Regions from separate parts of the Homo sapiens genome. Here region 2 is linked to region 1. Evidence: fine-mapped expression QTL. A gene starts in region 1. The other region holds a variant in brackets. All regions are shown on one strand. Distances are from middle to middle.

Region 1 (4,386 bases):
AATGTTTTCTGATAAATGTTTTGTAAGCTGAGGCATTTCTTCTGGAGAATATTCAGCATTTGCCAGTTCCTCCTTGAGCACAGCATGGATACAGTCTTTAACCACAGAGGGCCTGAACCTGAATGGAACAATTTGTGAACATCCAGTCGGTGACTCCACAACCCCAGCTTACCTTCATACCGCAACTTCTCCCATCTTTTTGTCATTAGTACCACTTAATCCTTCTTTTTCATATTTTTTATTATAAAATATAAACAAATTAAGACAAATCATAGGCCACATGTGTATCTTCAACCTGGACCTGCACTGAACTTCAACACATTCCAACTCATGCTCCATATGAATGTTTATTAGGCAACTCAATACATCCAATAATGAGCTTCTCATACTCCCCTCTCCCCCAAAACAAAATATATACTTGTTGTTAATTTTGTTCTGCACGCTTTCACAAAATAAAATAAAATAAAATAAAATAAAAAAATACGGCTGAATGGCATTCTGGGCATTCAGAACCTTTTACCAAGATAACTGAGGGTATCTTTCTCTGTGTTCATTCTACCCAAGGGAAAAATCCTGTATGAAATTTGTATCACTTTTTCTGTGAGTTACCAAGAGAATAAAAATAAACAAAGAAATTTGTATCACATTATAATCAAAATTCCTGTTTTCCATATTTGCCAAGCAAATATGGGGTGTGTGTGTGTGTGTAAAGTTAGTGATCTTACAAACCTAGCTGAGTACCCTCTGCTCTGGCCCGTGAGCCTGACATTTTTTTCAGTGTGTGTGTGTGTGTGTTGTGTGGTGTGTGTGTGTGTTGTGTGGTGTGTGTGTGTGTGTGTAAAGTTAGTGATCTCACAAACCTAGCTGAGTACCCTCTGCTCTGGCCCGTGAGCCTGACATTTTTTTCAGTGTGTGTGTGTGTGTGTGTGTGTTGTGTGGTGTGTGTGTGGTGTGTGTGTGTGTGTGTGTGTGTGTAAAGTTAGTGATCTTACAAACCTGAGTACCCTCTGCTCTGGCCCGTGAGCCTGACATTTTTTTTCAGTGTGTGTGTGTGTGTGTGTGTGTGTGTTGTGTGTGTGTGTGTAAAGTTAGTGATCTTACAAACCTAGCTGAGTACCCTCTGCTCTGGCCCGTGAGCCTGACATTTTTTTTCAGTGTGTGTGTGTGTTGTGTGTGTGTGTGTGTGTAAAGTTAGTGATCTTACAAACCTAGCTGAGTACCCTCTGCTCTGGCCCGTGAGCCTGATATTTTTTTCAGTGTGTGTGTGTGTGTGTGTGTGTGTGTGTGTAAAGTTAGTGATCTCACAAACCTAGCTGAGTACCCTCTGCTCTGGCCCGTGAGCCTGATATTTTTTTCAGTGTGTGTGTGTGTGTGTGTGTGTGTGTGTAAAGTTAGTGATCTCACAAACCTAGCTGAGTACCCTCTGCTCTGGCCCGTGAGCCTTAATCCTAGCGAGGGCTCGCTGCGGTGGTCTAAGGGCCTCCAGATCCCACCCGGGTAGGACTTCGCACAGATGCAGCTCCCGCGCCGGGAGTGAGCCCATCCTGGCACCCGTGTGCACAGTCACCCTCGAATCACGGCTGAACGGCATCCGACGCGAGTGGCTTCCTGCCTCTATTCTACCCATCTCCTTACTCAGGACGCCATCGCGGGTTTCCCAGGGCCAACCATTCCCGCCGCGCCACCCTAAGACGCGCCCGGCGCCCAAACACTGAGGAAGCGGGTGGGGTCCCCTGCGGCCCCTGCAGCGGGAGGGGCGCCCGGACGTCACAGCAGGGCCGCCCGCCCGCCTCGCGGCCTCCCGCCTCCCGCCCCGCGGACCCCGCGCGTCCCCCGCGCTCCTTCCGTGGCCCAGGTCCCAGGCGAGCTCCGCCCCTCAGACCAGCGCGCTCGAGGTCGCCCCGCCACAGCCCGTCCTCTACCCGCCTCTGCTGGAAAACAGGCCGCAGAATATAGGTGTTCTCGGGCTCCCCTGCGTTCTTCTCAGCCTCAGGCACCCCGTCGCCCACCGAGAAGGACACTCCGATGGACGTGGCCATGCCGGGGCTTCTCGGTCCGGGCGTAGCTCGCGATGAAGGCCTAGCGGGTTGCGGTCGCGGCCGGCAGCAGGGAAAGCGTCTCCAGGGCAACAGGGCCGCCCTCCCGCCTCGCTGAAGCCCGCGAGCGCCCCGCACAGCCGCCCTCCCTGCCCGCGCCTGCGCACCGGCTGCTGGGCGGGAACTGGTCGCGTCCGGACGCGCGACAGCTTCCACCCGCCTCAGGCAGTATCAGCCGCGCCGCAGTCGGAGGAAATAGACGCGGGGCCTGAGGCTCCTGGACTTGAGGTATTAGGCTGGTGCAGAAGTAATTGCGGCGGCCGGGTGCGGGGGCTCAGGCCTGCAATCCCAGCACTTTGGGAGGCCGAGGCGGGCGGATCACCTGAGTCAGGAAGAGTTCAAGACCATCCTGGCCGACATGGTGAAACCCCATCTCTACTGAAAATACAAAAATTAGCCGGGCGTGGTGGCGCGTGCCTGTAACCCCAGCTGCTCTGGAGGCTGAGGCAGAATAATCTATTGAACCCAGGAGGCCGAGGTTGCAGTGAGCCGAGATCGCGCCACTGCACTCCAGCCTGGCGACAGAGCGAGACTGCGTCTCAAAAAAAGAAAAAAAAAAAAAAAGGAAGGAAGGAAAGAGACTTAGGCTGCATTCCCCGCTTTTAAAAATATATATTTATTTTTATTTTTTTAAACGAAGTCTCGCTCTGTCACTCAGGCTGGAGTGCAGAGGCGCGATCTCGGCTCACTGCAACCTCCACCTCCCAGGTTCAAGCAATTCTGCCTCAGCCTCCCAAGCAGCAGGGATTACAGGCGCGCCCCACCACGACCGGCTAATTTTTTTTGTATTTTTATTAGAGACGGGGTTTCACCATATTGGCCAGGCTGGTCTCCAACTCCTGACCTCAGGTGATCGCCCACCTCGGTCTCCCGAAGTGCTGGGATGACAGGCGTGAGCCATCGTACTCTGCCGCATTCCCTGCTTATAAGCACCAGTCCCTGGTCCTGTTTTAGAAGGCTGTTGTATCTTGGCCTCTGCTAGCTTCAAAAACTAAGGCCCGATGAGGTAGCTCGTGCCTGTAATCCCTGTTTACAGGAGAGGCTGAAAGGGCAGGGATTCCTTTTTTTTTTTTTCCCACTTGAGACAGGGTCTTGCTCTGTTTCTCAGGCTGGAGTGCAGTGGCACACTCACCGCTCACTTCAGCCTCGACCTCTTGGACTCAAGCAGTCCTCCCACCTCAGCCTCTGGAGTACCTGGAACTACAGGCGAATGCCACCGCGCGTGGCTAATCTTTTTAATTTTTGTAGAGATAGGATCTGGCTATGCTGCCCAGGCTACTATTGAACTCTTGGGCTCAAGTGATTATCCCACCTCAGCCTTCCGAAGTGCTGGGACTACAGGCATGAGCCATCACAGCCAGCTGGGATATTGTTTTTCGAATCGCTGTCATGTTCTGTACTATATGCAGTTCCTGAAAGAATGGAGGCAAGAAGGAGTCAGCTAACCACTGTGAACTGTCTTAGTGCCAAGGACCCACCCTTCTCTCCTTGGGGTCCTGCTGACCCATCAGAATAGGGCTGAGCCAGGATGGGGCTTGTGGAGATGATGTGTATGAGTGTGCATGCACTTGTGTGTGCATGCCTAACATCCAAAACTAGATATAAATTCTTTAAACTTTTCATTAGTTGGCCAGGCACGGTGACTCGCACCTGTGATCCCAGCACTTTGGGAGGCCGAGGCGGGCGGATCATGAGGTTAGGAGATCAAGACCATCCTGGCTAACATTGTGAAACCCGGTCTCTACTAAAAATACAAAAATTAGCTGGGTGTGGTGGCATGTGCCTGTAATCCCAGCTACTTGGGAGGCTGAGGCAGGAGAATTGCTTGAACCAGGGAGTCGGAGCTTGCAGTGAGCCGAGATCACACCACTGCACTCCAGCATGAGACTCTGTATCAAAAAAAAAAAAAAAAAAAAAAATTCTGCGTGAGTTGTGTGGAGGTGTCAGTACCTTTCCCCAGCAAGAGAAGCTTCTCCATATCAGGCATATCCTAGCCATGACCCTGAAACTAACCAGCCAAGAGGGAAATGTGAGACAAGCCCAGGCAAGCTTCCTGGATGTTGTATGCAGGAATAGGATGTGCTCTCTGGACTTGGAGACTTCCTGCCTGCTCAAGAGGCTGTGCCTCCTTGTGTCTCCCACAGGCCTCTGTGTCCACCTTCCCCACCCTGGCAGGCCTGCTAGGCCAGCAGCCCTGGAGAGGAAAGGGTGAGGTGGTGTTTGAAGGGACCTGCCTCCTACGAGCTCTGCTGGTTGGACTGTCGGATGACAGAACCGTGCCTCTGAGCCT
Region 2 (4,386 bases), 43 kb before region 1:
TGTCACAGCCCTGGCTCAAGGAGCTCCTAGGTCTGGGCTTCCCAAAGGGCTACAGCTCTTCTCTTTCTCTCTCCTCTCTTCTCTCTTTCTGTTGCCCACAGCGTGGCAAGCAGTGGGGGAGGGGAGGACGTGTTTCGGCTCTGTTTGTGTTTCAGCTCTTTCAGTCCCACCATTTGGCAGATCCCGAGTTCTTGTCCCACGTCCAGGAAGAATGAGGTATATGGACAACTGGAGGACGAGCAAGGTGAAGAGGTGCTTTATTGAGCAACACAACAGCCCTCAGGAGACCCCAAGCGGGTAGCTCCTTTCCGCAGCAGGTCGTCCCAGCATCTGTGCAGCCCTCAGCGGAGAGGAGACCCAGAGTGGATAGCTCCTATCTGCAGGCAGGTCATCCTGACGTCTCTGCAGCCCTCAGTGGAGAGGAGACCTGGAGTGGGAAGCTCCTATCCGCAGGCAGGTCATCCCATCAAGTATGGCTGAGTCCAGGGTTTCTACGGGCTTCAGCGGGCAGGAAGTGCATGCTGATTGGTCCATGGGCAGCCACAGGCAGCCCGGAAAAAGCATCGTAAGTTCTCATTCCAGTCCACAGAACTGGCAGCCTGGGCCCCAGGCTTCAGGCCATCCCTGGCTTGAAGGTGGGGCTTCACCAGGGACCCGCCCATTTCCGCCTAGGAGCCTGTCTGCCTCCTGCTGTCATCAACCTGCTGTCCACAGCGCCCAGGCTATTCACGAAGGGGCGCCTGCAGGCCTGAATGGAGCTGCTCTCAGCTCCGCCTTGGCGTCCCCTCCTGTGCTGCTGGACACCCAAAATCCAGAGGGGGCCAAGGCAGAAGGGGGCTGGCATGTCAGCACTGCCCCTAGCACACGCAAACCCAGCCAGGTCATGACAGTGCCCAGGCTTGGCCTCAACTTTGCTCCAAAATCAGAGCAGGCACCAGGAGCAAGGAGAGGCCAGGCAGTGGGAGCAGGCACTTCAAGCCTGCAGGGGCAGGGGAGGTTCCTGGGCCCCCAAAAGCACAGGGAAGCCCGGGTATGTAGCCACGGCTGCTCCCGCCCTGCCAACTTGGAAACGGGCAGGGCTTCCACCTACTCCCAGCTCCCAGTGGCTCCATGGAGCGTGCAGCACAGACCATGCCTCCCCGACTGCAGCCGGCATCATGGCAGCAGCCCATCCAGACAGGCCACCGCTGCCATCATTTAGATGTTGGCTTTTCAGCCCCCTGCAGGGATAGTTGCGTTTTTCTTAAGTAACACAATTTGTACAAATAAATTACTTTCTTGATACTGATGAAATTTTAGGAATCAGCCAGAAATTGGGGGTAGGGGAAACTCTATGATAAACTGTCATCTCTGCACAAGATACGGTTCAGAGAAAAATCTTCAGAACAGGTGGAAAACCAATGCCAGACAGAATGAGGACAGTCTGCTCTGCCCTACTGCCTCTCATAAGCCTGACTGAGATGTTCGTCTAAACAACTGCAACTGTGCCTTACTTTCTTTCCTCCGGCTCAACTCCGAGTGGCAATATGACAAGATCTACAAGAAACTGGCCTAATTCTTAGAAGCTGAAGGTGACACCCCATGAGTCATGGCCAACATGAAAAAATGTCAGAGTCGAAAGTGAAAGATGAGCACCACCTAGAAACTTCCTTTCATCACAAATGCAAATTAAAATGGAAGAAGGGTTCTATACATTTCACTCCGAGTTCTTTCAGTGATGATGATCAGAGCTTGTCTTCACTATTGTTCTTAATGATTCCTTCATAATATTCAGAGGTCAATACTCTCATCTCAGTGGTCTGAGTGAACTACTCAAAATGCCTAATCCATCCAATTAATGATTGTTTTCTAATTTGCACAGTACTCTTCTGTAAGTATCTGCTCAATTCTTCTAAGTGTAGAGAGACAAAATCCACTATGAGAAATATAATCAGCAATTTGGCATCTGGCAAGTCAATAATATCAGGCAGTCAAAAATATGAGTACTTACTGCTTACAAAGTACTGTATCATAATTTTTAAGTACAAACTGAACCTGGAGGACATTATGCTAAGTGAAATAAGCCAGACGAGAAAGACAAATACCACAAATGACCTCACTTATTTGTGGAATCTAAAAGAGTGGAACTCACAGAAGTACAGAATGGAATGGTGGTTACAAGAGATGGACAGAAGAGGGTGGAGAGCAAAAAGGGAGATGTCGAGTACAAAAATTCAGTTTTGAAAGGAGAAACAGGCTGGGCACAGTGGCTCACGCCTGTAATC[T/C]CAGCCTTTGGGAGGCTGAGGCGGGTGGATCACGAGGTCAAGAGATCGAGACCATCCTGGCCAACATGGTGAAACCCCATCTCTACTAAAAGTACAAAAAATAGCTGGGTGTGGTGGCGCATATCTGTAATCCCAGCTACTCGGGAGGCTGAGGCAGAAGAATCCCTTGAACCCAGGAGACAGAGGTTGCAGTGAGCTGAGATCGCACCACTGCACTCCAGCCTGGCAACAGAGTAAGACTCTGTCTCAACAAAAAAGAAAAAAAAAAAGAATGGAGAAATAAGCTTTAGTGATCTATTGCACAGAATGGTGACTATAATAAATAATAATGCAGCCAGGCACGGTGGCTCACACCTGTAATCCCAGCACTTTGGGACGCCAAGGCAGGCGGATCACAAGGTCAGGAGATTGAGAACATCCTGGCTAACACAGTGAAACCCTGTCTCTACTAAAAATACAAAAAATTAGCCAGGCGTGGTGGCGGGCACCTGTAGTCCCAGCTGCTGGGGAGGCTGAGGCAGGAGAATGGTGTGAACCCGGGAGGCAGAGCTTGCAGTGAGCCGAGATCGTGCCACTGCACTCCAGTCTGGGCGCCAGAGTGAGACTCCGTCTCCAAAAAAAAAAAAAACCAAAACAAAATAAATAATAATGCATTTTATATTTCAAAATTGCTAAAAGAGTAGATTTTAAATGTTTTCACCACAAAAAAATAAGTATATAAGGCAAGGAATTTGTTAATTAGCTTGATTTAATCATTCCACATGTAAACATATATCGAAGTATCACATTGTATCCCATAAATATAAACAACTATTATTTATCAATTTAAAAAATTAAAGGCCAGGCACAATGGCTCACGCCTGCAATCCCAGCACTTTGGGAGGCTGAGGTGGGCAGCTCACCTCAGGTCAGGAGTTTGAGACCAGCCTGTGCAACATGGTGAAACTCCATCTCTACAAAAATACAAAAATTAGCCAGACTTGGTGGTGCATTCCTGTAATCCCAGCTACTCAGGAGACTGAGGCGGGAGGATCACTTGAATCTGGGAGGCAAAGGTTGCAGTCAGCCGAGATCGCACCACTGCACTCCAGCCTGGGCAACAGAGTGAGACTCCGTCTCAAAAAATGAAAAAAAAAAAAAAATTAAGTACAAACTATTTTCTCAAGGAAGCTTCAATTAAGGCATGGAAAACACACACAGAGCTCCACCTCAAAAATGCTTATGATATAAAAATGCTCTACAGGATTCTAAAACCATGGGGTGAAAGTTTGCTGAGGAATAGGATATTTGCAGTTACGAAAAATTGACCAGGTGTAGTGGCACATGCCTGTAGTCCCAGCTACTCGGGAGGCCGAGGTGGGAGGACTACTTGAGAACAGCAAGTCAAGGCTGCACTGAGCCATGATCATGCCACTACACTCCAGCCTGGACAGCAAAGTGAGACCCTTTCTCAAAAAAAAAAAAGGCCACATGCAGTGGTTCATGCCTGTAATCCTGGCACTTTGAGAGGCCAAGGCAGGCGAATCACCTGAGGTCTGGAGTTCAAGACCAGCCTGGCCAACATGGTGAAACCCCGTTTCTACTAAAAATATAAAAATTAGCCAGGTGTGGTGGCGGGCACCTGTAATCCCAGCTACTTGGGAGGCTGAGGCAGGAGAATTGCTTAAACCCAGGAGGCAGAGGTTGCAGTGAGCCAAGATCATGCCATTGCACTCCAGCCTGGGTGACAAGAGTGAGACTCCATTTCAAAAAAATATATATATTTTTTTCTTTACCTGCTTACACTATTATGTGTTTATACTATTCCTTATCTGCTTACATACAGTTCTTCTATTTTCTAAAGATGACTTTTGGGTTTTACATTATATTCTACACTGTTCTTTAAACTGAAGTCTTTAGATCCTTCGGATTTAAAATAAAACACACCCACTGCTTTTTGGGTTTTAGTGTAAGACACTTCTTTATCTCATCCACTTCTCAGGAGATGGAAAACATCTGGGTCACAGATATTCCATAATGATAACCCTAAAAGAATTTAGAAATTATGCAAAGATTACTCCTCATGACTTTCCTCTAGAACTACTGCTGTTTAAACTTTTACTCTGGGCTGGGCGCGGTGGCT

The links. PIP is the estimated chance that this variant, and not a neighbour inherited with it, causes the effect.
Region 2: its variant is the best candidate, but not a certain one, in a credible set for the expression of DYNLT2B in sigmoid colon (GTEx, PIP 0.54).

Annotation. Positions count from the first base shown.
Region 1 is chr3:196,316,114-196,320,499 of GRCh38, forward strand. DYNLT2B (dynein light chain Tctex-type 2B) reads right to left here and starts at 2,127. Exons shown (of 5, transcript NM_152773.5): 1 at 1,927-2,127; 2 at 1-118. The coding sequence starts at 2,039. TM4SF19-DYNLT2B (TM4SF19-DYNLT2B readthrough (NMD candidate)) reads right to left here. Exons shown (of 6, transcript NR_037950.1): 6 at 1-118. It overlaps TM4SF19-AS1 (TM4SF19 antisense RNA 1), which reads left to right and starts at 2,219. Exons shown (of 2, transcript NR_046724.1): 1 at 2,219-2,324. It overlaps LOC107986031 (a long non-coding RNA gene), which reads right to left and starts at 1,478. Exons shown (of 2, transcript XR_001740547.2): 1 at 861-1,478; 2 at 329-729. RefSeq lists a silencer at 1,647-1,896 and an enhancer at 1,957-2,056.
Region 2 is chr3:196,273,220-196,277,605 of GRCh38, forward strand. All of the region lies in intron 1 of PCYT1A (phosphate cytidylyltransferase 1A, choline), which reads right to left. Among named protein-coding and RNA genes, the nearest start is that of PCYT1A, 12 kb to the right of the region's middle. RefSeq lists enhancers at 1-364, 1,533-1,742. The variant T/C (reference allele first, on the strand shown) is at 2,265.